Regions from separate parts of the Homo sapiens genome. Here region 2 is linked to region 1. Evidence: fine-mapped expression QTL. A gene starts in region 1. The other region holds a variant in brackets. All regions are shown on one strand. Distances are from middle to middle.

Region 1 (10,768 bases):
GCTGGTCTCGAACTCCTGACCTCAAGTGATCCTCCTGCCTCTGCCTCCCAAAGTGCTGGGATTACAGGCGTGAGCCTCCATGCCCTGCCAGCTGGGGCTCTTTCACTAGGTAAGTGGCTTATCTGGTTTGCTTTTCCTGCCAGTTCTCTCTCACCAAAAAGCAAGACTTCTGCTTTCATCTCTTGGTGAAGAAAAAAGAGAGGGAGGCAGAATTTTGCCGTTAATCATCCTGCACTGTTGTTTCCAGCAGTAATTCCCCTGAATTAGCTGTCAGACATCTCCTTAGGAATTTTAACACACACCACAGGCTCCTTCTCACTACAGAGCCTTCAGGTGGCCGGTTCTCCTCTGCTGAAATGCCTTCATCCTTCCTCTTCATGAGCCCACATCCATCCCAGTCTGCAGACATCTTCCACGTCACGTTCCTACCTGACCCCACTCCGCCCCACGAGGACTCTGATTCAACCATGCTGACCAACAGTGTATGATGTGCCAGTCATTGCTTTTAGGGTCTTCTAGACCCTAAAAGAGGTATTTTTGGAATGAGGTATTTTTATTCCCATTTTATTTTTTGAGAAGGAGTCTTGCTGTGTCTCTCAGCCTGGAGTGCAGTGGCACAATCTCAGCTCACTGCACCCTCTGCCTCCCGGGTTCAAGCGATTCTCCTGCCTCAGCCTACTGAGTAGCTGGGATTACAGGTGCCTGCCACCACACCCGGCTAATTTTCGTATTTTCAGTAGAGATGGGGTTTCACCACATTGGTTAGGCTGGTCTCGAACTCTTGACCTCAAATGATACGCCCGCCTCAGCCTCCCAAAGTGCTGAGATTAGACGTGTGAGCCACCGTGCCCAGCCTTTATTCCCATTTTAGAGCTGGTACAACCCAGGCTCAGGAAAGTTGAGAACTCCAGCTTCTTGGCCCTCCAGGCTTTGTGCTCTTTTCTTTTCCCCACAGCTCATGGTATCTTTTTCCTTGCCAACCTCCTTCCCTTTATGAAACTTCTCGTATTTCTGTGTACGATGCAGAAGAACTGCAAGAGTTTTAGTTCCAGGATGAGGTAAGCCTCATGGAATAGTTTGTGGAGGGTTGGAAATTAAATAATTTCCAATAATAATTTCGAATAATTTGGCCAGGCTCGGTGGCTCACGCCTGTAATCCCAGCACTTTGGGAGGCCAAGGCAGGCAGATCATGAGGGCAGGAGTTCACGACCAGCCTGGCCAACATGGAGAAACCCCGTCTCTATTAAAAATACAAAAAATTAGCCATGCGTGGTGGCACGTGCCTGTAATCCCAGCTACTCGGGAGGCTGAGGCAGGAGAATCGCTTGAACCCAGGTGGAGGTTGCATTGAGCCGAGATGGCGCCACTGCACTCCAGCCTGGGTGACAGAGTAAGACTGTTTAAAAATAAATAAATAAATAGTAAAAGTGTTAATAAGTGGACTTTAATTGCAGTGTCTATTAATACTAATAACAGCATAAAAATAAAAATATAATTGATAGCCTCTTTAGTGTCACGTTTATGGTTTTATTTTAGTGAATATAAATTTTTGAGATTTGAATTTTCATGTCCAAATGGTCCTGGCCTCTAAATGTCTCCTAAACATATTTTTCTTTCTTTTCTTTTCTTTCTTTCTTTCTTTTTTTTTTTTTTTTTTGAGACAGAGTCTTGCTCTGCTGCCCAGGCTGAAGGGCAGTGGTGTGATCTCAGCTCACTGCAGCCACCCCCCTCCCGGGTTCAAACGATTCTCCTGCCTCAGCCTCTGGAGTAGCTGGGACTACAGGTGTGCGCCACCACGCCAGACTAAATTTTGTATTTTTAGTTGTGATGGGGTTTTATCATGCTGGCCAGGCTGGTCTTGAACTCCTGACCTCAGAAGATCCACCTGCCTCAGTCTCCCAAAGTGTTGGGATTACAGGGATTAGCCATCGCATCTGGCCACCTAAACCTATGTCCTCCATGAGGCTATAAGATTTTCACCTGCAAATACCAGCATTGTTTGTTTCTTTTTAAAAGATACTTCAGTCAAGGAAAGGCAGAAAGCCAGGCATGTTAGCTCATGCCTATAATCCCAGCACTTTGGGAGACCGGAGGCAGGAGGATTGTTTGAGCCCAGGAGTTCAAGACTAGTCTGGGCTACATAGCAAACCCTGCGTCAAATTAAAAATAAAAAATAAATAGGCTGGGCATGGTGGCTCATGCCTGTTATCCCAACATTTTAGGAGGCCAAGGTGGGCAGATCACCTGAGGTCAGGAATTCGAGACAAGCCTGGCCAACATGATAAAATCCCGTCACTCCTCAAAATACAAAAATTAGCCTGGCATGGTGGCACACACCTGTAGTCCCAGCTACTTGGGAGGCTGAGGCAGGAGAATCGCTTGAATCCGGAGGCAGAGGTTGCAGTGAGCCCGAGATCATGCCACTGTACTCCAGCCAGGGTGACAGAGCAAGACACTGTCTTAAAAGTAAAAATAATAAAAATAAATAAAATTAATAATTAAAGAAATAAAGAAGGAACACCACAGGGGAGCAGGCCTGGTGTCTGAATGTTAAGGTAGGCCCTCTGTGGATGTGCATCCTTAACCTTTTCCTGATTAGATCATTAAAGGTGCAGCAATGCTCCTGCTCATATGACTTTTTTTTTTTTTTGAGATGGAATCTTGCTCTGTCGCCCAGGTTGGAGTGCAATGGCGCGATCTTGGCTCACTGCAACCTCCGCCTCTTGGGTTCAAGCGATTCTTCTGCCTCAGCCTCCTGAGTAGCTGGGATTACAGGCGCGTGCCACTATGCCTGGCTAATTTTTTTTGAAATTTTTTTAGTAGAGATGGGGTTTCACCATATTGGTCAGGCTGGTCTCGAACTCCAGACCTCGTGATCCGCTCACCTCGGCCTCCCAAAGTGTTAGGATTGCAGGCGTGAGCCACCGCGCCTGGCAACTCATATGACTTTTAAACACTTCTCTTTGGGGAGAGAGATTTTAGAGAATGGGAGTAAAGAGAAAGGCGGTGAGAATCCCAAGTACTTTCTCTATCTTAGAGCAGAAGAAATAAAGGGAAGAGTAAAAGCCCAAGGCCCAGAAACGGATTTGCTTCTTAAAGGGCTGTTCTGTGTCCCTACGGGCCTGAAGGTCAGTTTATGTGCAATGCTTTTTAAGGTATGGGTTGCTTTCTTGCATTGTAGCTACTACCTCCCTGGCCTGCTGGTTACTGACCAGAGGGAGGGAGAGGGTGTGATTGTTTGGAAAGAGTTTAAACAGTGACAAGAATTGAATTTTATTTATTTGTTATTCATTGCACAATCCAATAACAGCGATGGCAATGAAAACGAAAGTTAATCTACAATCCTATCACCCTATTAAGTCACTTGTTTCTATTTTCCCTTTTATTCCCTCATGCATTAAACATTACGCAAAGCACTCCGCTAGTCTTGGTTAAAGTGCAGCTTGTATACATTCTGAATAAAAATTTGCATTTTGCTTTTCTTTTCCTTTTTGTATTTCTGAGGCTGCAAAATACATCTTCACAAGAGTGGCTTTAATAGTTACCTAACATTCCATCCTGCACGTACATTTCAAGGCACTGCCGCAGTGCAATATCCAACATTTAAGCGTCAACGCCAACAGATTGGACCTAGCACTGCAGGGACTGGAGGTTGGTCAAGGTCAGGCGGAGGCTGCCAGGCTACCAGGGTGGAGGAAGGCGCCGAGGCAGAGGCCAGTGCGCCCATCGCGCGGCTCCTCGGGGCACCTGCTGCCTTGGCGCCTTTTCCCTTGGCCTTCGCCTCGCCCGCAGCGCCCTCCGCATAGGGCCCCGCCCGCTGCGCGCGCATCCCCGCCCCCCGGGCGATCTGTCAGAGCACCTCGCGAGCGTACGTGCCTCAGGAAGTGACGCACAGCCCCCCTGGGGGCCGGGGGCGGGGCCAGGCTATAAACCGCCGGTTAGGGGCCGCCATCCCCTCAGAGCGTCGGGATATCGGGTGGCGGCTCGGGACGGAGGACGCGCTAGTGTGAGTGCGGGCTTCTAGAACTACACCGACCCTCGTGTCCTCCCTTCATCCTGCGGGGCTGGCTGGAGCGGCCGCTCCGGTGCTGTCCAGCAGCCATAGGGAGCCGCACGGGGAGCGGGAAAGCGGTCGCGGCCCCAGGCGGGGCGGCCGGGATGGAGCGGGGCCGCGAGCCTGTGGGGAAGGGGCTGTGGCGGCGCCTCGAGCGGCTGCAGGTACACGGGGTCGGCGGCTGTGCGCAGAGGCGTCCCTGCGCCTCTCGTCCCTTCGCCTCTCGTCCCTTCCCTTCTCTCTGCCTTCTTGCCCGCCTCCTCGGTCACAGAGCGACGAATGACGAGACCAGGTGTACCCCCACTGTCGCTCTCAGCCCCGGGGACTTCGGGTCCTCGCCCTTGAAGGCCGCAGGCCCTAGTGCGCCGGCTCCGGGCTGCGGGTCCGGGAGCGCGGGCGCAGCCAAGGTGCAGCTGCGCGGCGTGCGGCGCCGGGGGAACACGTGGCTGCTCCAGGAAGTCGCCCCAGGGAACGGCTGGGATTCGTGGGTGACCTTGGGCTCCTAAACCTTCGGTTCCCCGGGCTCCGGGCGGGCCCCGTTCTCACTGCGGAAAGGGACAAAGCTGTCCCCGATTCGGTTACTAGCGTGTTACAGGCATTAATTAGATACGGGTTTCTGTAAACTTACCCTTCGGCTCTGGTACAACCTGATCTTGCCATGCTCTGCCTGTTCGCCTTGTGTGTGGATTCTGTTTTCTCAAGGCAGAATCCGACTGAACGCCGCAGGTGTTCACATTAAGAATATTGCTAGCAGTTCTCACTACAAGACGGGAGCCATAGGAGTGACTTATTTGTGAAAGATACTTGGAGATTAGCGGTGTGGTCAGAGGGCTGTGCTGGATTGATGGGCGCCGGAGAGGCCGATTGTGTCACATTCTGCTGGACAGTTCTTTTAAGGTTGGGAGGGTGGGTAAGAAAATACATTCTGATTCGGCTCTTTTCGGATAACGCTTTCCCTCTGCTTACTGCTTGTAGAGACCTCACTTACCCGGGGGACTGGATTCTGCAGCTTTTTCCATTTTCTTCCCCGTTGATAAGAGGATTAAAGTAGGAAATTGTATTTGGCTACCCCATGCTTATATGCTAAGCTTACTGTGAAAATTAAGGTTAGGCTGTCTAGAGTACTTGTGGACCCTGCTGGTTCCCCCCGCCCCCCGGCCCTGAATTTTGGGTTACAATATGCTTCTCAAGAAAACTCAGAGTTAAGATAATTTTTGTCATCGATTTTGCAAGGTTATATATAGCATAGCATCCTTCAATTTCCTTTGGATGTTCTTATCAAGTAATGGTGGCTGTAAACCTAGCCTGTGTTGAAGATTGTTAGATAGACAGCAGTTTGGCTAACTCCGCCCTAAGGCGAGGCAGTTACTTGCCTCTGATAATGTATTTAAATGTCATGGAGCAAGATTCCCAGCTAAACCTGAATCGATCACAATGCTAGTTAAAAATGACCCTCGGCTGGGCGCATTGGCTCCCGCCTGTAATCCCAGCACTTTGGGAGGCCAAGGCAGGCGGATCACCTAAGGTCAGGAGTTCGAGTCCAGTCTGACTAACATGGTGAAATCCTGTCTCTACTAAAAACACAAAAATTAGCCGGGCATGGTGGCTCACGTCTGTAATTCCAGCACTTTGGGAGGCCGAGGCAGGTGGATCACTTGTGGTGAGGAGTTCGAGACTAGCCTGGCCAACATGGTGAAACCCCGTCTCTACGAAAAATACAAAAATTAGCTGGGCATGGTGGTGCACACCTGTAATCCCAGCCACTCAGGAGGCTGAGGCTCGAGAGTCGCTTTAACCTGGGAGGCAGAGGTTGTAGTGAGCTGAGATCGTGCTACTGCACTCCAGCCTGCGCGACAGCGAGATGCCATCTCAAAAACAACAACAAAAAAACTCCCTACTAAACCAGAAGAGTGATGGGGACGGGAAAAGATTCCTGGTCCAATGTTTTCATTATATTTTTCATATCATTTGGAATCTCATGCATCAGGCATGCCCCAGTACTGTTAAAGACAATATTTTTACTCATTATCAGGTAGTTCAATACCAGTTATTACAGGATAGGGAAGTCAGTCAGAGAAGGCTTCATAGAGATGAAGCCTTGAGCTGAGCCTGGAAGAAATGAGGAGGACCTCAAGGAACAGAGAAGAATGTTGGTGGGTAAAAACAGGGGCTGGATTCTGTCTGATTTTGGAGAAAATAGAGGGTAGTGAAGTTGTTAGGCAGTGAATGTGTTCCATTTCATGGTTCAAAACGTGGGGCTACGTTTTGCCTACCTGAGCTTCATTATTAATGTGAGAAATTGAATTGTTGTTTTCAGTCACCATTGAGAACACCAAAGATAACACAAGTAGCTTAGATTATTATTTATTTATTTATTTTTGACAGAGTTTCACGCTTGTTGCCCAGGCTGTAGTGCAATGGTGTGATCTCGGCTCCCTGCAACCTCCACCTCCCCCAGGTTCAAGTGATTCTCCTGCCTCAGCCTCCCCAGTAGCTGGGATTACAGGCATGCGCCACCATGCCCGGCTAATTTTGTATTTTTTTGGTAGAGATGGGATTTCTCCATGTTTGGTCAGGCTAGTCTCAAACTCTCAACCTCAGGTGATCTGCTCGCCTCGGCCTCCCAAAGTGTTGCTGGGATTACAGGCGTGAGCCACCATGCCCGGCCATCGCTTTGTGTTCTTAAAATTAATTTAAAACAAGAAAACTTGAGGAATGATGGTTCAGATGAGTGTTAAAACTTGCAAGATGTTTTTTCCTAGAAAAGGATGATTAAAATTGGTTCAGGGTGGGGCCTTCCAGTTCTGGCTCTAATGATTGGGTCCTTACTGTTCTGGTGGAGTGGTAGTGATAAGCTTTTTGTAACAGAAGGGGCAAAAGATTGTGCTTCTGGCTGGGCGCAGTGGCTCACGCCTTCGATTTCCTTGGGATGTTCTTATCAAGTAACTAATCTTAGCACTTTGGGAGGCCAGGTGGGTGGATCACCCTAGGTCAGAAGTTCCAGACCAGCCTGGCCAACGTGGTAAAATCCCGTCTCTACTAAAAATACAAAAATTAGCTGGGCATGGTGGTGGGCACCTGTAATCCCAGCTACTCGGAGTCTGAGGTGGGAAAATGGCTTGAACCCGGGAGGGGGAGGTTGCAGTGAGCCGAGATCCTGCCATTGCACTCCAGCCTAGGCAACAAGACCGAAACTCTGTCTCAAGAAAAAAAAAAAGATTATGCTTCTAAGAATATGGTCTATTGCATATGGACACTGGTTTTTAAAGCTTGAATTTAAAAAGAATTTTTTGTAATAGGTTTTAGAGCTTTTTCTTTTTCTTTTTTATTATTTTTTTGAGATGGAGTTTCACTCCGTCACCCAGGCTGGAGTGCAGTGGTGCCATCTCGGCTCACTGCAACCTCCACCTCCCGGGTTCAAGCGATTCTCCTGCCTCAGCCTCCCCAGTAGCTGGGATTACAGGTGCCCACCACCACGCCCATCTAATTTTTGTATTTTTAGTAGAGATGGGGTTTCACCACCTTGGCCAGGCTGGTCTCAAACTCCTGACCTCGTGATCCACCTGCCTCGGCCTCCCAAAGTGTTGGGATTACAGGCATGAGCCACCGTGCCTGGCCAGAAAGCTTTTTCTTAATGCCAGTTATAATACCCTTTGCTTTACAATTTGCGTATACCTCACAGCTTGCTTTGTGCCGTGTGTGTTTAATATGCCCTAAGTGTACTCGTATATAGGAAAAGCTTTAAAATGGTATCCAATAAATGTCCATTTTGCAAATCTCAGGATAATGTCATTTTCAAGTATCTAGATGCCCTCAAACCAAATTAACTGGAAAATTCAGATTTCAGTTAAGGCCTTTAACTTAACTTAGGACTTTGATTACAGAGATGTATTTTGCTTTGACAAAAGTTAAGGTTAATGTCTTAAATTTCCAGAGATGATAACACAATTTCTATAACCCAGTAACCCATTTAACTTCGCTTAGATTATCAATTTTCAGCCTTGAACAGGCCACTTAGTTTCTCTAATAACTGGCCTCTTCATCTGTAAAACAGCGTAATCTGTGTTTCATGTTTCTTCTTGTGTCAAAGATCGAATCACTTGTAGGAACTATTCATTCAGTCAGGATCAGTATTTCTTCCCCTTCCCATTGGAGATGGTTTGTGGTATTTGTAGCATAACTGGTCTTGTCTGCCTTAGTCTTAATTTTGTCTTTTTGTATGTGTCACTTTCTTTTTTTTTTGAGACAGAGTTTTGCTCTTGTTTTCCAGGCTGGAGTGCAGTGGCGCGATCTTGGCTCACTGCAAGCTCCACCTCCTGGGTTCACGCCATTCTCCTGCCTCAGGCTCCCGAGTGGCTGGGATTACAGGCGCCCACCACCACGTCCGGCTAATTTTTGTATTTTTAGTAGAGACAGGGTTTCTCCATGTTGGCCAGGCTGGTCTTGAACTCCTGACCTCAGGTGATCCACCCATCTCAGCCTCCCAAAGTGCTAGGATTACAGGTGTGAGCCACCCCGCCCAGCAGTATGTGTCACTTTTGTCTACTCAGAACATAGTGGTTCGTACTTATAATTGCAGCACTTTGGGAGGCCAAGGTGGGAGGATTGTTTGAGGCCAGGAGTTCAAGACCAGCCTGGGCAACATAGGGTGACCTTGTCTCTACAAAAAGAAAAAAAAAGAATTATGTATATAACAAACTTTAAAAAGGATCCCACTTAATTTAGTTGTCATGTAAACTATGGTTAAATACCTTTTCTAGAAAAGTGATAATGTATTTTAAAAATTTAATGTATCATTTAGCCTGGTAATAGAAAGCTCACTAATCTGATACAGTAGTATCTTTCTCAATAATTCTCTATTCTGATACCTAGGTTCTTCTGTGTGGCAGTTCAGAATGATGGATCAAGCTAGATCAGCATTCTCTAACTTGGTAAGATATTTTCAGTTGTATTTCTGTGTCTGCAAGAATGTGAAATATACAAGCATGACTTTAACTGAGTAAGCATGAAATAATAACCCCAATCTATTATCAGGTATTCATTTACATTTGAATTGGTAGTCTTGAGGCATAACTGATCTCACAAAGAGTTCAGCCTTCAGTAGGGTTAATTATGGAAAGTCTTGGAAGAATTCTCAGAGTGGTTCTGGGTGTGGTAGACGGGGACAGCTTAGTAGATAAGACGAATTAAAGCCCTGATCAAAATGTTTTAGTAGGAGAAGTAAAAAGCAAAGGCTTGCGGGGCGCTGTGGCTCACGCCTGTAATCCCAGCACTTTGGGAGGCTGAGGTGGGTGGATCACCTGTGGTCAGGAGTTCAAGACCAGCCTGACCAACATGGTGAAACTCGGTCTCTACTAAAAATACAAAAAAAAAAAAAATTAGCTGAGTGTCATGGCGCATGCCTGTAGTCCCAGCTACTTGGGAGGCTGAGGCAGGAGAATTGCTTGAACCCGGGAGGCGGAGGTTGCAATGAGCTGAGATCACGCCATTGCACTCCAGCCTGGGCAACAGAGTGAGACTCCGTCTCAAAAAAAAAAAAAAAAGCAAAGGCTGAATGAGGCCAAGTGTGGTGGCTCACTCCCGCAATCCCAGCAGTTTGGGAGGTGAGGCAGGAGGATCACTTGAGGAGTTTGAGACTTGCCTGGGCAACATAGCAAGCCCATCTCTATTAAAAAAAAAATGAAATTTTAAGAAACATTGAGTAGACAGTATGAGTGAAAGCTGAAAGAACATACAAAAAAAACAGCCATCCAGGCCATGACGAGAAGGAGCCTAACTCTTAACACTCTGTCTAGACCTCAATTCTCTCTTATTTGTATTTATTTATTTATTTATTTTTATTTTATTTTTTGAGATGGAGTCTCAGCCTGGGCTCTGTTGCCCAGGTTGGAATGCAGTGTGCAATCTTAGCTCACTGTAACCTCCGCCTCCTGAGTTCAAGCGATTCTCCTGCCTCAGCCTCCTGGGTGGCTGAGATTACAGGCGTGCGACACCATGCCCAGCTAGTGGTTTTTTTTTTTTTGAATTTTTAGTGAGAGGGGATTTCACCATGTTGGTCAGGCTTGTCTCAAACTTCTGACCATAAATGATCTGTGTGCCTCGGCCCCCCCCAGAGTGCTGGGATTACAGGCATGAGCCACTGTGTCTGGTCTATTCTCTCTTTTCTGTCTTCTATCTTATGCTTAGTCAGAATTTCTGCTTATTTATAACTTTGTTTTATTCTTGCTCCCTTGCTCCCACCAACATCATGGTCTGGGTTACTGCATAGTATCCTGAACTGATTTGTGCCCCTAGTCCCAGCTACTCAGGAGGCTGAGGTGGGGGAATCAGTAGAGCCCAGGATTTTGAGGCTGCAGTGAGCTGTGATCACACCACTGTACTCCATCCTGGGAGAGAGAGGGAGACCTTGTCTCAAAAAAAAAAAAAAATTTACAAAAAGGGAGAGACTGACTGAGAAGACCAGTGTGAACTAGCCCTTGACTGGGCCCAGGGAAGAATGTTGGTTTGAAAGGAGAACACCCTAAGGAATATATAGCAAGTTATAGTAATGGCCCAATAACAAGCATATACCTAAACGAGCTTTTCCTAAACATTCCCGTGCCTGTTCTTCATCATGCCTTTTTCCGCAACACAGTTTGGTGGAGAACCATTGTCATATACCCGGTTCAGCCTGGCTCGGCAAGTAGATGGCGATAACAGTCATGTGGAGATGA
Region 2 (11,752 bases), 30 kb after region 1:
ATGGTTAAACCCCATCTCTACTAAAAATACAAAAAAATTAGCTGGGCATGGTGGCACATGCCTATAATCCCAGCTGCTCAGGAGGCTGAGGTGGAAGAATCGCTTGAACCCAGGGGGCAGAGGTTGCAGTGAGCCGAGATCGTGCCATTGCACTCTAGCCTGGGCAACAGAGCAAGATCGTCTAACAACAACAAAAAAAAAACCAAGGCTGAATTTCTTGAGTGATTGAGCAGTGGCTATCTATTGGACAGTCCAGCTGAACAGTATTTTCCTCAGGCTGGGTGCAGTAACTCACACCTATAATTCCGGCACATTGGGTGGCTGAGGTGGGCAGATCACTTGAGGCCAGGAGTGAGACCAGCCTGGGTAACGTGCCTAGACTATATCTCTACAAAAAATTTTTTAAATTAAGTGGCCCAGTGGCCAGCTGTAGTCCCAACTCCTTGGGAGGCTGAGGCAGGGGGGTCACTTGAGCTAGGAGCTTAAGGCTGTGGGGAGCCATGATTGCATCACCACGCTCCAGCCTGGGTGACAGAGTGACCTCGTCTCAAGGCTGCAGGGAGCCATGATTGCATCACTGCACTCCAGCCTGGGTGACAGAGAGAGGCCTCGTCTCAAGGCTGCGGGGAGCTGTGATTGCATCACTGCACTCTAGCCTGGGTGACAGAGTGACCTCGTCTCAAGGCTAGAGGGAGCCATGATTGCATCACTGCACTCCAGCCTGGGTGACAGAGAGAGACCTCGTCTCAAGGCTGCAGGGAGTCATGATTGCATCGCTGCACTCTAGCCTGGGTGACAGAGACCTTGTCTCAAGGCTGCGGGGAGTCATGATTGCATTGCTGCACTCTAGCCTGGGTGACAGAGAGACCTTGTCTCAAGGCTGTGGGGAGTCGTGATTGCATCACTGCACTCTAGCCTGGGTGACAGAGAGACCTCGTCTCAAGGTATGTTTCATGTATCTTCTCTTTTTTCATTGATAAAGGCCCAAACTTCCCAGAGAGAAAAACATACAGCCTTAAGGAATTTGGCTAGAAGTCTATTCAGGGCATATGATACGATAGAACAGGGATTCTGTAGAACCTGGAAGAAAGTAGTCACTCTAGGAGTAGGTTAGCTTGAGAGAAGTAGCAAGAATGTACTTAAAGCAGCAGATAATGAGATAGAATTGGGGTAAATTGCGGTAGGAATATGTTAGAAGCAAGGGTGGAACTGTCGTCACTGTTACCTCGATGGCGAAGCCAGAATGTGAGGCTCTTGCTCTTAGAACTCACGTGAGTACCATAGCCTCGCGTTGTCTTGCAGGACACAGATTATCCTTATTTGGGTACCACCATGGACACCTATAAGGAACTGATTGAGAGGATTCCTGAGTTGAACAAAGTGGCACGAGCAGCTGCAGAGGTCGCTGGTCAGTTCGTGATTAAACTAACCCATGATGTTGAATTGAACCTGGACTATGAGAGGTACAACAGCCAACTGCTTTCATTTGTGAGGGATCTGAACCAATACAGAGCAGACATAAAGGTGAGCACTGATTCCAATTACGTTTTTATTTTGCTGAATGTCAAGTATTTTGAAATGTGATGTGTTCCTGTGTGTTCCTGTTGGAAGGGTGATTGTAGCCATAGTACATTTTAAAGTGAACTGAGGTATAATTGTATGTAGAATTGGTAACTTGTTTGAGAGAAGTCGGGAGGCTGTGGATTAGAGACCTAGGACAGAGCTCAGCAGGTGTTTCAGAATCCAGAGCAGTGTCAGGTTTTCTGTCACTCATGTCTCCCAGGCAGCCCGTCAGTAGGACACGGAATATGAAGATCTCAGCAAGGAGTTGGGCTGTGTGCCTCTCGGGCGTGACCCGGATGGAAAGACAGCACAGCTAGCAGGATTCCATCTCGTAGTGATCTGCGCATCTAAAAGTCAAATATTCTATTAAACGAAACTGATAAGCAGGGTGAGGTGGTGCATACCCGTAGCCCCAGCTACTTCTGCTGAGGCAGGAGGATTGCTGGAGTCCAGCCCAGGCAACATAGCAAAATCCCATCTCTAAATAAATTAATAAAACTAATATTAAAGTAGCTTCCAGATTGTTTTATGGTACTAGGAGTTGATTTTTAACAGATCTCTTAATTGAAGTAAATCACTGACAACCGAATCTTTTTATATCTTTTTTATTTTTATTTTTATTTTATTTTTTTTGAGAGATGAAGTCTCGCTCTTGTCCCCCAGGCTGGAATGCAATGACATGATCTCGGCTCACTGCAACCTCCACCTCCCGGCTTTAAGCGATTCTCCTGCCTCGGCTCCCCAGGTAGCTGGGATTACAGGCGTGTGCCACCATGCCCAGATAGTTTTTGTGTTTTTAGTAGAAGCCGGGGTTTTACCATGTTGGCCAGGCTGAAGTGCAGTGGCGAGATCTCGGCTCACTGTAAGATGCGCCTCCCGGGTTCACGCCATTCTCCTGCCTAAGCCTCCCGAGTAGCTGGGACTACAGGTGCCGGCCACCACGCCCGGCTAATTTTTTGTATTTTTAGTAGAGCCGGGGTTTTACCATGTTGGCCAGGCTGGTCTTGAACTCCTGACCTCAGGTGATCCACCCACCTCGGCCTCCCAAAGTGCTGGGATCACAGGCATGAGCCACCACGCCCGGCATCTTATGTCTTTCTTGAAACTAATTGTAACTGTTGAAAATGGAACTTACCAGGTGGAAATAACTAAATCCTGAAGTACCTTGAACCAAAATGTTTTCCCCTATAGGGACATTTTCCCCCAAAAGGAGAATTGAACTGGAAACAATATAGTACATAGGATTATATAATTATGTTCAATTTCTTAATGAGAATGGTTTTCTTACATGCTGGGCTCAAATATGAGTGTATATCACAGTCCATAGAGCTTGGAACCCCTGTGCAAGGTGCTTTCGGAGTCTTGAGCTTATCTGCGAGTTCCTTTTATCAGAATCTTACTTAACGCACGTTAAATTAGAAAGGCATACAAAAGAATGTCCTTAGAAATAAAACTTCTCATAGCGAATAATGTCTGTTTCAGGAAATGGGCCTGAGTTTACAGTGGCTGTATTCTGCTCGTGGAGACTTCTTCCGTGCTACTTCCAGACTAACAACAGATTTCGGGAATGCTGAGAAAACAGACAGATTTGTCATGAAGAAACTCAATGATCGTGTCATGAGAGTAAGTGAACTTTTGGGAAAGGAGGAACTAAAGTATGTGTAAAATAACCGATAAATCTTACACTTCTGCAAAGTGGACAAACTCTAGGAGTCTAGAATTCCTTTAAGAAGGGAGCATTAATGGTTTAGCTGTCATTTTCTGTTTCTGCTGTCTAATTCAGAACTTAGTCAAACCTAGTCTTTTTGGAAGAGACTTGCTGTAAAACTTCCATGTATGCTCCAATGGGGAAAAGAATCTGAACACATTTAAAGTTTTCCTTTGTAAAATGAATCAGTTTCCTTTAAAAAAATTTTTTTTTTTTTTGAGACAGAGTTTCACTGTTGTTGCCCAAGCTGGAGTGCAATGGCACGGTCTCGGCTCACTGCACCCTCCACCTCCCAGGTTCAAGTGATTCTCCTGCCTTAGCCTCCCGAGTTGCTGTGATTACAGGTGCCCAACACCACGCCCGGCTCATTTTTTGTATTTTTAGTAGAAACGGAGTTTCACCATGTTAGCCAGGCCGGTCTCGAACTCCCAACCTCAAGTGATCCACCTGCCTTGGCCTCCCAAAGTGCTGGTATTACAAGCGTGAGCCGCTGTGCCTAGCCTCCTTTAGAATTTTAACCTTAGAAGATTAGCATTAGCCTGGTTCTCAGCATTCTTTTTTCCTTACTCTGCTATAGAAAGTCTGATCAGCTGGCTGGGTACAGTGGCTCATGCCTGTAATTCCAGTACTTTGGGAGGCCGAGGCAAGCGGATCACCTGAGGTCAGGAGTTCAAGACCAGCCTGACCAACATGGAGAAACCCCATCTCTACTAAAAATACAAAAATTAGCTGGGCGTGGTGGTGCATGCCTGTAATTCCAGCTGCTCAGGAGGCTGAGGCAGGAGAATTACTTGAACCCGGGAGGTGGAGGTTGCAGTGAGCTGAGATCGCGCCATTGTACTCCAGCCTGGGCAACAAGAGCGAAACTCTGTCTCAACAACAACAAAAAGCCGGGCACGGTGGCTCACACCTGTAATCCCAGCATGAATTGCTTGAACTCGGGAGGTGGAGGGTACCAGTGAGCCGAGATAGCGCTGTTGCACTCCAGTCTGGGCAACAAGAGCGAAACTCTGTGTCAAAAAAAAAAAAAAAAAAAAAAAGTCTGATCGGCATTCTTAAATTTGGGACATTTTACATTTGAAGTGAACTGTTGTTTTACTACAAAAGTCACAGGGCTGTGTAAATTGCCTTGTGTGTTGTTTTCGTAGGTGGAGTATCACTTCCTCTCTCCCTACGTATCTCCAAAAGAGTCTCCTTTCCGACATGTCTTCTGGGGCTCCGGCTCTCACACGCTGCCAGCTTTACTGGAGAACTTGAAACTGCGTAAACAAAATAACGGTGCTTTTAATGAAACGCTGTTCAGAAACCAGTTGGCTCTAGCTACTTGGACTATTCAGGGAGCTGCAAATGCCCTCTCTGGTGACGTTTGGGACATTGACAATGAGTTTTAAATGTGATACCCATAGCTTCCATGAGAACAGCAGGGTAGTCTGGTTTCTAGACTTGTGCTGATCGTGCTAAATTTTCAGTAGGGCTACAAAACCTGATGTTAAAATTCCATCCCATCATCTTGGTACTACTAGATGTCTTTAGGCAGCAGCTTTTAATACAGGGTAGATAACCTGTACTTCAAGTTAAAGTGAATAACCACTTAAAAAATGTCCATGATGGAATATTCCCCTATCTCTAGAATTTTAAGTGCTTTGTAATGGGAACTGCCTCTTTCCTGTTGTTGTTAATGAAAATGTCAGAAACCAGTTATGTGAATGATCTCTCTGAATCCTAAGGGCTGGTCTCTGCTGAAGGTTGTAAGTGGTCGCTTACTTTGAGTGATCCTCCAACTTCATTTGATGCTAAATAGGAGATACCAGGTTGAAAGACCTTCTCCAAATGAGATCTAAGCCTTTCCATAAGGAATGTAGCTGGTTTCCTCATTCCTGAAAGAAACAGTTAACTTTCAGAAGAGATGGGCTTGTTTTCTTGCCAATGAGGTCTGAAATGGAGGTCCTTCTGCTGGATAAAATGAGGTTCAACTGTTGATTGCAGGAATAAGGCCTTAATATGTTAACCTCAGTGTCATTTATGAAAAGAGGGGACCAGAAGCCAAAGACTTAGTATATTTTCTTTTCCTCTGTCCCTTCCCCCATAAGCCTCCATTTAGTTCTTTGTTATTTTTGTTTCTTCCAAAGCACATTGAAAGAGAACCAGTTTCAGGTGTTTAGTTGCAGACTCAGTTTGTCAGACTTTAAAGAATAATATGCTGCCAAATTTTGGCCAAAGTGTTAATCTTAGGGGAGAGCTTTCTGTCCTTTTGGCACTGAGATATTTATTGTTTATTTATCAGTGACAGAGTTCACTATAAATGGTGTTTTTTTAATAGAATATAATTATCGGAAGCAGTGCCTTCCATAATTATGACAGTTATACTGTCGGTTTTTTTTAAATAAAAGCAGCATCTGCTAATAAAACCCAACAGATACTGGAAGTTTTGCATTTATGGTCAACACTTAAGGGTTTTAGAAAACAGCCGTCAGCCAAATGTAATTGAATAAAGTTGAAGCTAAGATTTAGAGATGAATTAAATTTAATTAGGGGTTGCTAAGAAGCGAGCACTGACCAGATAAGAATGCTGGTTTTCCTAAATGCAGTGAATTGTGACCAAGTTATAAATCAATGTCACTTAAAGGCTGTGGTAGTACTCCTGCAAAATTTTATAGCTCAGTTTATCCAAGGTGTAACTCTAATTCCCATTTTGCAAAATTTCCAGTACCTTTGTCACAATCCTAACACATTATCGGGAGCAGTGTCTTCCATAATGTATAAAGAACAAGGTAGTTTTTACCTACCACAGTGTCTGTATCGGAGACAGTGATCTCCATATGTTACACTAAGGGTGTAAGTAATTATCGGGAACAGTGTTTCCCATAATTTTCTTCATGCAATGACATCTTCAAAGCTTGAAGATCGTTAGTATCTAACATGTATCCCAACTCCTATAATTCCCTATCTTTTAGTTTTAGTTGCAGAAACATTTTGTGGTCATTAAGCATTGGGTGGGTAAATTCAACCACTGTAAAATGAAATTACTACAAAATTTGAAATTTAGCTTGGGTTTTTGTTACCTTTATGGTTTCTCCAGGTCCTCTACTTAATGAGATAGTAGCATACATTTATAATGTTTGCTATTGACAAGTCATTTTAACTTTATCACATTATTTGCATGTTACCTCCTATAAACTTAGTGCGGACAAGTTTTAATCCAGAATTGACCTTTTGACTTAAAGCAGAGGGACTTTGTATAGAAGGTTTGGGGGCTGTGGGGAAGGAGAGTCCCCTGAAGGTCTGACACGTCTGCCTACCCATTCGTGGTGATCAATTAAATGTAGGTATGAATAAGTTCGAAGCTCCGTGAGTGAACCATCATTATAAACGTGATGATCAGCTGTTTGTCATAGGGCAGTTGGAAACGGCCTCCTAGGGAAAAGTTCATAGGGTCTCTTCAGGTTCTTAGTGTCACTTACCTAGATTTACAGCCTCACTTGAATGTGTCACTACTCACAGTCTCTTTAATCTTCAGTTTTATCTTTAATCTCCTCTTTTATCTTGGACTGACATTTAGCGTAGCTAAGTGAAAAGGTCATAGCTGAGATTCCTGGTTCGGGTGTTACGCACACGTACTTAAATGAAAGCATGTGGCATGTTCATCGTATAACACAATATGAATACAGGGCATGCATTTTGCAGCAGTGAGTCTCTTCAGAAAACCCTTTTCTACAGTTAGGGTTGAGTTACTTCCTATCAAGCCAGTACGTGCTAACAGGCTCAATATTCCTGAATGAAATATCAGACTAGTGACAAGCTCCTGGTCTTGAGATGTCTTCTCGTTAAGGAGATGGGCCTTTTGGAGGTAAAGGATAAAATGAATGAGTTCTGTCATGATTCACTATTCTAGAACTTGCATGACCTTTACTGTGTTAGCTCTTTGAATGTTCTTGAAATTTTAGACTTTCTTTGTAAACAAATGATATGTCCTTATCATTGTATAAAAGCTGTTATGTGCAACAGTGTGGAGATTCCTTGTCTGATTTAATAAAATACTTAAACACTGAGTTGTCATTTCTTTAGATAAATTTTTTAAAAAGAGCAGTTTTAGGCTCATAGCAAAATTAAACAGAATTCCCACACATCCACTGTTTCTGCCACTTACACATCCTCCATGACGGTCAACAGCTTGCGCCAGAGCGGC[A/G]TATTTGTTACAATGGGCAGCCTACACGGGTGCACCATTAGCACCGTCAGCATCATTAGTCTACTGTTTACGTTAGGGTTTGTTCTACGGTTTTTGACAAATATGTAATATCATTCTAGTAGCTTACAGAATAGTTTTTATTGCTGTAAATCTTGTGCTCTGCCCATTCATCCATCTCTTCTATAAGGCCCTGGTAACCACAGATCTTACTATATCCATAATTTTACCTTTTCCAGACTGTCATACAGTTGGAATCAGAATATAGCCTTTTCAGATTGGCCTCTTTCACTAAGCAATAGCATTTGTTTCCTCCATGTCTTCATGACATGATACCTCATTTCTTTTTAGCACAGAACAATATTCTGTTGTCTGCAGTTACCATAGTTTATCTAGCTCACCTACTTACTAAGTAATCTTGCTTCTAAGTTTTGGCAGTTATGAATAAACTGATAAGCACCTGTGTGTATATCTTTTCTGTGAACATAGGTCTTCAGCTCTTTAGGTAAATACCAAGGTACATGATTGCTGCTGTCTTCTAAGTGGGCGATCTCAGCCCACTGCAGCCTCCGCCTCAGGCAGTTCTCCTACCTCAGCCTCCGAGTAGCTGGGATTACAGGTGTCTGCCACCACGCCTAGCTAATTTTCATATTTCTAGTAGACGTGGGGTTTCACCATGTTGGCCGGGCTAGTCTTGAACTCCTGATCTCAGGTGATCCGCCTGCCTCAGCCTCCCAAAGTGTTGGGATTACAGGCGTGAGCCACCATGCCCAGCCTCTATTGGCAATTTCTAAATATACAATATATTGTCACCATATACCACATATGTAATTTTATTTATTTTTGAGACAGAATCTTTGCTGTCGTCCAGGCTGGGGCGCAGTGGCGCTATCTCGGCTCCCCGCAACCCCCACCTCCTGGGTTCAAGTGATTCTCCTGCCTCAGCCTCCTGAGCAACTGGGATTACAAGTGTGGGCCACCACGCCTGGCTAATTTTTGTATTTTTAGTAGAGATGGGGTTTCACCATGTTGGCCAGGCTGATCTTGAACTCCTGACTTCAAGTGATCTGCCCACCTCAGCCTCCCAAAGTGTGTGATTACAGGTGTGAGCCACCACCACGCTCTGCCTCCTTTTTTTTTTTTTTCCCGAGACAGTCTCGCCCCATCGCCTAGGCTGGAGTGTAGTGGTGCCATCGCAGCTCACTGCAACCTCCACCTCCCAAGTTCAAGCAATTCTTGTGCCTCAGCCTCCTGAGAGGCTGGGATTACAGGTGTGCTCCATACCGTGTCTTCAAACTCCCTTGTACCTCAAGCAATGCACATCTCAGTTTTGGCTAGCCACATTTCAGGTGCTCAGTAGCCACATGGTTAGTGGACACCAGCTCTATAGCAAAAGGCGTAATTGTTGAGAGTTTTCTTATTTTGGCCTTCTACCGTGTGGTTACCAAAAAATCCATCACACAATTGAATCTCATTGCTATGAGTGCCAGCCAGGATTCTTAAGTATGGCCACGAAAATTGTGGCCCCTAGAATTGGAAGCCTAATTGCCTCACCTATGCCCCAGCTTTCCCGTGTCCAAATTAGCCACATTCATACCCTTGAGAAGCAAGATGATTATTAAACTGCTGTATTCTACGGGAGAAACTGCCTATGTGAAAGGTCATGGGTTAGGAAGCTGTCCTAAACAAATATTTGTAAAACACCTGGTTATCTGCAAGACAGCTTTGCCTAGAATTCAATATCAGATACCAATGTCTTCCTTGTGGCTGTCAACAGGTTTAGGTGCTGAGTTAAATAAAGCCTTTGCAGTTTGCTGCATTTGCCCTTTAAGCTGCCTCATGCTTAATCCACCCCAAATGGACAGCTTTGTATAATTTTCTTTTCTTTTCTTTTTTTTTTTTTTCTGAAATGGAGTCTCATTCTTGTTGCCCAGGCTGGAGTGCAATGGCGTGATCTCAGCTAACTGCAACCTCTGCCTTCCAGGTTCAAGCGATTCTCCTGCCTCAGCCTCCCCAGTAGCTGAGATTACAGGTGCATGCCACCATGCTCGGCTAATTTTTGTATTTTTAGTAGAGATGGGGTTTCGCCATGTTGGCCAGGCTGGTCTCGAACTCCTGACCTCAGGTGATCCGCCCGCCTTGGCTTCCCAAAGTGCTGGGATTAAAGGCGTGAGCCACCGCACCTGGCCAGCTTTGTATAATTTTTAATGCCTTTTTTGAAAATATTCACATACGGTCAAAGTGCAGAAAAGTCTGTATTAAAAAGTATTTTCCTCTTAGTCTCCAGAGTTGTCATCCCTCTAAATCTCCACAATTACCAATTTTTCTTTTTTTATTTTGAGATGGTCTCGCTCTTGTCACCCAGGCTGGATTGCAGTGGCATGATTTCAGCTTGCTGCAACCTCCGCCTCCTGGATTCCAGCTATCCTACCTAAGCCTCCTGAGAGTAGCTGGGACTACAGACAGGCAACACCATGCCCAGCTAAGCTAATTTTTGTATTTTTTGAGAGATGGGGTTTTGCCTTATTACCCAGGCTGGTCTCAAACTCCTGGACTGAAGTAATACACCTGCCTCAGCCTCCCAAAGTGCTGGGATTACAGGTGTGAGCCACTGGGCCTGGTCATTTACCGATTTCTTATGTACATTTTCAAAGTTGTCTGTGCATAAATGAGAATTCTATACCAGATCTTCCTAAAAGCATATATGGGGGCTCTGGTTCCACAGTCACCACATAAGCCTCCTACAACCTATCCCTCCTGCTGCTTACAGCCAGAAGCTCAGTAAGACGGGGGGAAAACTCTCCCAAACCTGAGATGTAAACAAAGGTAGGCAAACAGTGGAGGGGAGTAAAACTTGGAGAAGTGACCTCAAAAGGGAAAGAATTGGCAGGAACCAAAAGAGGAACAAACAAAAAAACTGGTGAAGTGGCATGCTGAGTCCAGCCATATCAATAATTACATTATTGACATGTTAACATTCTAATCAAGACTGATGATTAAAAAACAATCAAGGCCCATTTATATGCTGCCTATAAGAAACTTTAAAGACAGATGAATTGAAAGGGGAAAAAATACAATATGTACACTAGCATACTATGACTGGAATGGTTATATAAATATAAGATTAAATAGACTTTGAACAGATAGTACCGTAAAGATAGGAATATTTTATAATTGTAAAGAGAGCCATTCAGGAAGATAGCAGACTTATAAATACGTATGCACCTTAAAATACATGAAAAAGAAATGAAAATTCTGCCATTAAAATAGATTTTAACACCCATTTCTTAGCAGTAAATAGAGAAGCTAGACCAAAAAAATCAGGACAAATTATTTGAACCACTGTATCAGCCACCTCAATCTACTTGACATTTGTAGAACACCACATTCAACAACTGCAAAATATACTTTTTTTAGGTATATGTGGTATATTCAGCAAGATAGACCATATACTGGGTGATACGGTTTGGATTTGTGTCCCTGCCCAAATCTTAGGTCAAATCGTAATCCCCAGTGTTGGAGGAGGGGGCCTGGTGGGAGGTGGTTGGATCACGGGGGCGGAATGCCCCCTTGCTGCTGTCATGGTAGATCCCACGAGATCGGGTAGTTTGAGAGTGCGCAGCGCCTTTGCTGTCTTCCTCCTTCTCCAGCCGTGTGGGATGCGCCTGCTTCCCCTCTGCCTTCTGCCATGATGGCGCAGTCCCTGAGGCCTCCCCAGTCATGCTTCCCGTGTAGCCGGCGGAACCATGAGCCAATTAAACCTCTTTTCTTTATGAATTACCCAGTCTCAGGTAGTTCTTTAAAGCAATGTGAGAATGGACTAATACATTGGGTGGTAAAACAAGTCTCAATTTTTTTTTGTTTTGTTTTTGACTTGGAGTTTTGCTCTTGTTGAAGATTATGTAGCTCGTTTCGGGAAGCTTCTATCTTCTTACGATCTGCAGCATCTATCCTGTAAACAATAGCCTTGACTCGTCGCTGTCACACGGGCTGGAGTGACGTGGCGCGATCTCGGCTCACTGCAGGCTCCGCCTCCCGGGTTCAAGCGATTCTTCTCCCTCAGCCTCCGAGTAGCTGGGATTACAGGCACCCGCTACCACGCCCGGCTAATTTTTTGTATTTTTAGTAGAGATGGGGCTTTCACCGTGTTGCCCAGGCTGGTCTCGAACTCCTGACCTCAGGCGATCCACCCGCCTCGGCCTCCCAAAGTGCTGGGATTACAAGCGTGAGCCACCGCCCGGCCGGTCCTGGATCTTTATTGTGACATGACCTTTAGTTACTTTCCTCGTGTTGAAACC

What was found. PIP is the estimated chance that this variant, and not a neighbour inherited with it, causes the effect.
Region 2: its variant is fine-mapped to the expression of TFRC in blood mononuclear cells (TOPMed, PIP above 0.99).

What each region holds. Positions count from the first base shown.
Region 1 is chr3:196,075,282-196,086,049 of GRCh38, reverse strand. TFRC (transferrin receptor) reads left to right here and starts at 3,960. Exons shown (of 19, transcript NM_001128148.3): 1 at 3,960-4,007; 2 at 8,928-8,986; 3 at 10,690-10,768. The coding sequence starts at 8,951. RefSeq lists silencers at 403-575, 3,638-3,977, 4,028-4,327 and an enhancer at 5,209-5,708.
Region 2 is chr3:196,044,852-196,056,603 of GRCh38, reverse strand. TFRC (transferrin receptor) reads left to right here. Exons shown (of 19, transcript NM_001128148.3): 17 at 1,303-1,524; 18 at 3,046-3,186; 19 at 4,420-7,320. The coding sequence ends at 4,662. It also overlaps the pseudogene ARL8BP1. Among named protein-coding and RNA genes, the nearest start is that of TFRC, 31 kb to the left of the region's middle. RefSeq lists an enhancer at 574-1,099. The variant A/G (reference allele first, on the strand shown) is at 7,458.